Linked DNA regions of Homo sapiens. The protein of the gene in region 1 interacts with the protein of each later gene in a pairwise test. Each region holds a gene or a part of one and is shown in the gene's direction. Other genes may lie near its edges.

Region 1 (3,945 bases):
TCTCACCCAACCGTTCCCAGCCTCTGGTTTCTTTCTACTCTCTAAATTTATGAGATCGATTTGTTTTAGCTGCCACAGATAAGAACATGCAATATTTATGTCTTTCTGTGCCTGGCTTATTTCACTTAACATAATGACGTCCATCCACGTTGCTGCAGATGACGTGATTTCATTCCTTTTCATCTGTGTTTAAACAAGGTCTCCCTCCAGGGATTTTGATGCAACTGAAGTTGGAGAAAACACAGACCTAGGACACTCCTGCAGCTGGGAGTGCGATGGTCTAACAGAGGAAGTGCTATGCCACCAGCTCATCTTTGCCATCCTGGAGCTGTCTAATCTACGACTCAGTTTTCTTTTCTGTCACTACACTGTGAGAATGAGATGAGGAACTGGGTGTGAAAACGGTTTGAAAAGGAGAAGCATGGTTGCACACGCCTGCGATCCCAGCACTTTGGGAGGCTGACGAGGGAGGACAGCTTGAGGCAAGGAGTTTGAGACCAGCCTGGGCAACATGACAAGACCCCATTTCTTAAAAAAAAAAAAAAAAAAAAATTTTTTTTTCTTTTTTGAGACGGAGTTTCGCTCTTGTTGCCCAGGTTGGAGTATAGTGGCCGTGATCTCGCCTCACTGCAATCTCCATCTCCTGGGTTCAAGCGATTCTCCTGCCTCAGCCTCCCTAGTAGCTGGGATTGCAGGTGTGCCACCATGCCTGGCTAATTTTGTATTTTTAGTAGAGATGAGGTTTCACCATGTTGGCCAGGCTGGTCTCAACTTCCTGACCTCAGGTGATCCACCCGCATCGCTTACCAAAGAGCCAGGATTACAGGCGTGAGCCACTGCGCCCGGCCAAAATTTTAAAAAATCAGCTGAGTGTGGTGGTGCGCGTCTGTGGTCCCAGCTACTCGGGAGGCTGGGGCGGGAGGATTGCTTGAGCCCAGGGGTTGCAATGAGCTATGATTGCGCCACTGCACTTCAGCCTGGGTAACAGAGTGAGACTTTGTCTTTTAAAGAAAGGAGAAAATGGCTTGAACGGGCTAAGAACCTTGACCCCCAGGAGACTCCCTGCGCTGATAGAGCCTCTAGGGCTGGACTCCGCCTCCCAGGGAGCCGGGAGCATCTTGGGGAAGGGCCTGTCTCCATCTGTGTGTCCCGGTGGAAAAACGGTCACGGTGGGGAGTCACTGTCATTATTCATTGAACTCAAGCGCTCCTATTTTGGGTTTTCTCGTTCGGATTTCTGCGCGAGCGAGTGAGGAAGAACTGGACACCCGGGCGGTGCCCTGCGGCTCGGGGCGGGGCCAGCCGCGGTGGCGTGTCCGCAGCCACCTCAGCCCTCCTCCCGCCACATCCTCCAGGAAAGGCTGCTCAGGCCTTCCATTGAGGAGACAAGGACCCGCTGCTCTGGGGCCAGACACACGAGTAAGTCGTGACCCCCTGTGTGAAGGGATAAGGCGTCTACCCTGACGCGGGTGAGAACCCTCTTCACGGCAGACTCCGACGCCCAGTTATGAGAGCGTAGCGGCGCACCACCGCCGGGTCTCTCGGAGAGGGCGCGCCCGCTGGCCAGAGGACCAATCAGTGCACGGCAGGCTCGCAGGCCGCCCCCCCCCCCCCCCCCCAACCCAGGGACCACTCAGGCGCCGGCCGCTGGCGCTGCCTGCTCTTCGACTGGGCGAGCTTCCTGCCAATCAGGGCGGAACCAGCGCGGCGTCGGCCAGTAGCGGGAGGCGGTCGGGTCAGGCCCCAGCTGGGCGCGAGCGGGTCGGCGTTGAGGGAGCCACCGCCCTCCCGCCTGCGCACTGCCTCTCGCCCCCCTCCGGCCAGCCCGCAGCCGGCCGCGTCATGCCAGGCGCTGCTCGGCGGTAGGGAGTGCCCGGGGCCGCCGCCTCCGCCCGCCCGAAGCCGCGCCCACTGCCCAGAGCCAGAGGGATGGTGGTAGTCACGGGGCGGGAGCCAGACAGCCGTCGTCAGGACGGTGCCATGTCCAGCTCTGACGCCGAAGACGACTTTCTGGAGCCGGCCACGCCGACGGCCACGCAGGCGGGGCACGCGCTGCCCCTGCTGCCACAGGAGGTACCCGGGCGGGCGGCGGGCCGCGGGGCGTGGGGAGGGGCGCGGGGGAGAAGCGGGCGCGGGGCATAGCGGTCCTCGGCGGGTGGGCGGGGCCGGGGTTGGGGGCGGGGCCCGCGGACTTGCGCCCCTCCCCCGCCCACCTGCAACTCCCCCGCCCACCTGCACCCCTACCCACCCACCTTCAACCCCTGTCAATTACACCCACTAGGTGTGCTTCCCCACCCCCTACACCCTCCGCCCAGTAGTCACTGGGGTGATTTACTCCCATCGCCATGTCCCACTTTTACCGAAGACAGGAGGGAGGGTGGGCCGTGGGAGGGGGACCCTGGAGCCCCGAGAGCTGATGGTGTGTCTGACCAGGCACCGTAGCTCGAGCCTGTAATCCCAACACATTGGGAGGGAGGATCGCTTGAGGGCAGGAGTTGGAGGCCAGCCTGGGCAACATAGCGAGGCCCCGTCCCTACTACGACTGGAAAAACAAAGGCATTTTGGGTTGGATGAATAAAAAAAAGAAAAGAAAAAGATGTCTTCTAGAGAATCCAACAGGATGCTGTAGTGGTTGCCCACACCTAGTCTCCAGCTACCTAAGGAACAAGGCAAGGAGCTGTCTGCACATAAGGGGCAGGCCAGTTCATAGATGTAGGCACGGTCACCTGGCATCCCATGGCTTTCACTCACAGGCTGCTGTGCTCTGGTGCACAGGGGCTTCCACGGGTCTTACTTAATGTGTGTGATACTATCATGTCAACACCTGAAATGACACTCAAGAGACGGGAGAAGATACCAGGCATGGTGGCTCACATCTGTAATCTCAGCAGTTTGGGATGCTGAGGTGGGAGGATTGCTTGATCCCAGCAGTTAGAGACTAGTCAGGGCAACAGTGAGACCCTGCCTCTACAAAAATGAAAATTAGCCAGGCTTGGTGGTGTGTGCCTGTAGTCCCAGGTGCTCAGGAAGGTGAGTTGGGAGGATTGCTTGAGCCCTGGAGGTTGAGGCTGCAGTGAGCTGTAATTGTGCCACTGTACTCCAGCCTGGGTGTGATAGAGTAAGACCGTACCTACAAACAAACAAAAACAAAAAAAGCAAGAGAAGGGAAACGATGCCAGGTGTGGTGGCTTACACTTGTAATCCCAGCACTTTGGGAGGTCAAGGCAGGAGGATGGTTTGAGGCCAGGAGTCTGGGACCAGCTTGGGCAACACAGACTCCATCTCTACAAATAAAAAATAAAGAGGAGGGAAGGTGAAGCATTACTGGACACCGAAGATGGCTTCTAGGAGGCAGGGACTAAGGTAGTGCCAGATCCAGGAGCATGTGGTATGCGGAGTCCCAGGACAATGGAGGCCCTCAACAATTGAGGCCCTCAACAGGCTGGGCTAGGTGATGCTCTTGGGAAGCAGATAGTGTTGTGCTGGGATTGCAAGCCCCATACACACAATGCCATGGGAAAATGAGCAAAAATCTAGAAGTAATCTCTGCAATTGGAAAAAAGTCATTAGTCACAGTGGTGCTATTTTTTTGTGCACTGTCATTGGGAAAATGATATGGTTTGAGGGAAAGAGCACAAGACCACAGATTGCAGACCAGGGCCCCACCACCAGTTCCCCCCACTGATGACATTGCCCCATGTGAGCTCCAAAACTGTTTCCGATGGCTTTTGTCCTCTCTGCTTCAATCCTCTCATCTCTAATATGGAGCAAGCACTTGGATTGGTATGAAGTATCTTTAGAAAAGGTTTAAAGAGCTCCAGAAATGTTAAGTATTATTATTCCAAAATGATATCTGAGCCCTTGATATACACATAAAATGGTTTTAGAGGACCTACAGAATAAGCGCAAGGCATTTTCATGTCCTGTGGGTGCAGAAGAGTAACAG
Region 2 (3,600 bases), on another chromosome or scaffold:
CACCACTGCACTCCAGCCTGGGAGACAAGAGTGAAACTCAAAAAAAAAAAAAAAAAAAAAGGTAAATTCTGTGCATTTTAAGTGACAACATTAAAGAATTTTAAAGCAATTTTGTGTATTTTTTAAAAGAATTATTCCATATTAAGTGCTTCTATATTATACAATTTCTCCATCTTGCCACTGCAATTTCCATGAACTTTTATTGCCCTTGACTGAATTTCTAAAAATTACTTATAATGAAAGACATTAGATAAAAATTGCTCAAAACTTACCATTTTTCCTCTTAGTGGTTTCAGGAAGGACTACGTGATTTCTCAGTCTTACAGCGAGCTCAAAAATAAGTCTCTAGTCCCAAAAGAAAAAAAGAATTAGGCTCATTTTCCTGTCTTAACTCACACACGCTCATCTTTACTGAACATTTTAAATAAAAACCTCGCCGGGCGTGGTGGCTCACGCCTATAATCCTAACACTTTGGGAGGCCGAGGCGGGTGGATCACTTGAGGTCAGGAGTTCGAGACCAGCCTGGCCAACATGGCGAAACCCCGTCTCTACTAAAAACACAAAAATTAGCCGGGTGTGGTGGCAGGCGCCTGTAGTCCTAGCTACTCAGCAGGCTGCGGCAGGAGAATCACTTGAACCCAGGAGGCGGAGGCTGCAGTGAGCTGAGATCGCGCCACTGCACTCCAGCCTGGGTGACAGCGCGAGACTCCGTCAAAAAAAAAAAAAAAAAAAATCCTCTAATGGCATCCCCTAGGTAATAAAAACCCGGCTATAGAAGATATCCTACCCGATTCAAGCCTCCCAATCTCCTACTTGCCCGGCTTGCTCTTCTTCAAGAGCCTCCTTGCAAGTCCCCCAATAACCCAGATACCTTCCCTTAGGGTCCAGGCATTGGGTGTCCCTTTTGCCTGGAATTCTTATACTCAGACATCTCTACGGCTAATTTCCTCACCTCCAAATTTCTGCTTAAATGTCAAGTTTAACTGACCTGACAATCCTACACAGAACTGCTTTAGCCCTTCAGCCCTAGGACATTCCTATTTCCTTCTCCCACAGCACTTATCACTAATATACTATGAAATTCGCTTTTTTTTTTTTTCACCACAGCACTTATACTAATATACTATGAACTTTTTTTTTTCCACCACAGCACTTATCACTAATATACTATGAACTTCTCTTTTTTTTTCATTTTGAGACGGAGTCTCGCTATGTCGCCAGGCTGGAGTGCAGTGCGGCAGGATCTCGGCTCACTGCAACCTCCGCCTCCGCCTCCCGGGTTCAAGTGATTGTCGTGTCTCAGCCTCCCGAGTAGGTGGGACTACAGGCGCGCGCTACCATGCACGACTAATTTTTGTATTTTTAGTAGAGACGGGGTTTCGCCGTGTTGGCCAGGCTGGTCTCGAACTCCTGACTTCAGGTGATCCGCCCGCCTCGGCCTCCCGAAGTGCTGGGAGGCCGCCGTGCAGGGTCCTTCTTTTACTCTGACGTTGCAACAACAGCCTCGCCGCCCACTGTTCACTCGCAGTATCCCAAGAACTAAACCAGTAGCAACACAGAACTCAGCAAGCATTCGAATAAGTGAATGAAAGAATTAATGACGTTACTCCATACTTGGGCTTCACCACTTCGTCTAGCACAGCCGTTGTTAAAACAGGAAAAATGCAATCGCAGATGCCAGCAGAGGTCTGTTGGTTCAAAATTATAGTTTCTTTGGGCCAGCGGAAGTTGGGCGCGGGACCCAAGAGAGAGAACGCCCCTTACCGCCTCACCTCCTTCCTCCCCTCATCTTCCTATCTCAAACCAAAACGACAATGCAATTTATCCCCAACCGGAAATTTGACAGTGAAAGGGAGCTCTACTAATAATTGCACTGGGACAAGAAGTGTAAGGCGAAACTACCTGGGCAACCTCAAGCAATGCTTTACACTCGGCTGCCAAACGGAAAGGACCACTTCCGCCCAGCTCTCCCGCTACGGGGAGCCAAGTGCCACAGCATCCGGAGCGCCGACGCGGGACCGGAAGTGACGCAGAGAAGTTTCCGGGACTGGTGAGTAGTGGGCGATTTAAAAACCCGCGAGTGTAGTTGTGACCTTCGCGGTAGGTGCCGGTTGGGGCCGGCTGTGATTGTTATCTTGGTGCTGCAGAGGACAGCAGAAGAGGAGATTGGGTCAGAAAACTGCCCTGCCGCACCAGAGCACAGCGCACTAGTGGGACAGGGGTCCTGACTCAGACTTAACTGGCTGTGTCTCGTGGTTTTTCACTGTCCTGGAAAAGGCCTGAAGTGGCACTGAAATGAGGCATAGATGAGGTAACGTCGAGGGAGCGGTTTGCAGGTTGCAAAGGGGCCCTACTGATGCTGCTTAATAGTAAACAGTGCTTACTCTAGGACGGGAGTTGTTTCCAGCTTTACGTGTAAATCTCGCGATATTGTGGCCTGGGCACTATTTCCATTAAGGAGGAAACTGCACAGGATAAGTCATTTACCTGCTGTTGCACAGCTCTGGCTCTAGGATTCAGGCTGGCTTCAGAGTCGGTGCTCTTAACCGCCATACTATGTTGCCTTCTGTTGTCGTTGTTGACTGTGGCCATGTAGCTTCGCAGTTTCCTCATCTGTAACAGTAAATAACTCAAAACCTGCATGATGGCCCACTAGGGTTTCACTTTCGAGCTTGCCAGATGTAGAAAATGCTGGAGAATGGAGTACTATGAGGACCATTAGAAGATCTTTCAAGGCCGGACGCAGTGGCTCACCCCTGTAATCCCGGTACTCTTGGAGGCCGAGGCAGGTGGATCACTTGAGCGCAGGAGTTTGAGACCAGCCTGGGCAACATGGCGAATCCCCATCTCTACTAAAAATACAAAAATTAGCCAGGTGTGGTGTTTAGCGCCTGTAGTCCCAGCTGCTCAGGAGGCTGAGGTGGGAGGATCTGCTTGAGCTCAGGAAGTCGAGGCTGCAGTGAGCTGAGATCACGCCACTGCACTCCAGCCTAGGCGCCTAGTGAAACCCTGTGTCAAAAAGAAAAAAACAAAAACAAACTTCCAAGACCTCGAGTGGTTTTTGGAGACCCTGTATCACTTCAAATAATGTGTTAAACAAGCATCTTCATCTCATTAAATAGAAATGTTGAAAAATTGCTTTTGGAATAATTGACTTATGGATATTTCATCAAATTTACAGTTGGCTATGCTTTCTTATTGTGCATACTATGAAATGTTTTTCTTCAAAAAGTGTTTATAAGTGGTAAGTTTAAGAATGGGGTTGACAGCATTATCTTTTGTGGTTATTTGATTAAACATTTACTAATTGTGCATATTTTGGAGCCAGCAGTTTTTTTCTACCTTTCCATTGCCCTCCCACCTTCCCTCTGTTGCCAACCTTTTCAGTTCCTTGTTGGATGTAGATACTTAGAAGGCTTACAGGCTGTCTGGGAAAAGTACCCTATACCTTATCCCCTCCCACCTCTTGAGCCTGGCCTTTGTGTAGCAAATGTTGCTTAAGGGGCAGTGGCTTCTCCCTTCTTCTGCCTTGACCCTGCCCATTTATAGAGTGACCTGCCTATGTATTCCTTGATTTTTGATTCTGATAAAGCACTTGA

Evidence for each region. Proteins that work in one complex are often made in the same cells at the same time.
Region 2: the proteins of KCTD7 (region 1) and NIF3L1 interact in binary tests that used the Homo sapiens proteins (3 or more experiments, as listed by UniProt).

Annotation. Positions count from the first base shown.
Region 1 is NC_000007.14:66,627,137-66,631,081, forward strand, and holds the start of KCTD7 (BTB/POZ domain-containing protein KCTD7), read left to right. Parts: upstream 1-1,744; 5' UTR 1,745-1,928; coding exon 1,929-2,072; intron 2,073-3,945. UniProt on the Homo sapiens protein: May be involved in the control of excitability of cortical neurons.
Region 2 is NC_000002.12:200,887,341-200,890,940, forward strand, and holds the start of NIF3L1 (NIF3-like protein 1), read left to right. Parts: upstream 1-2,030; 5' UTR 2,031-2,312; exon of another isoform or gene 2,313-3,600. Other genes in the region: PPIL3 (peptidyl-prolyl cis-trans isomerase-like 3), read right to left, coding at 273-275. UniProt on the Homo sapiens protein: May function as a transcriptional corepressor through its interaction with COPS2, negatively regulating the expression of genes involved in neuronal differentiation.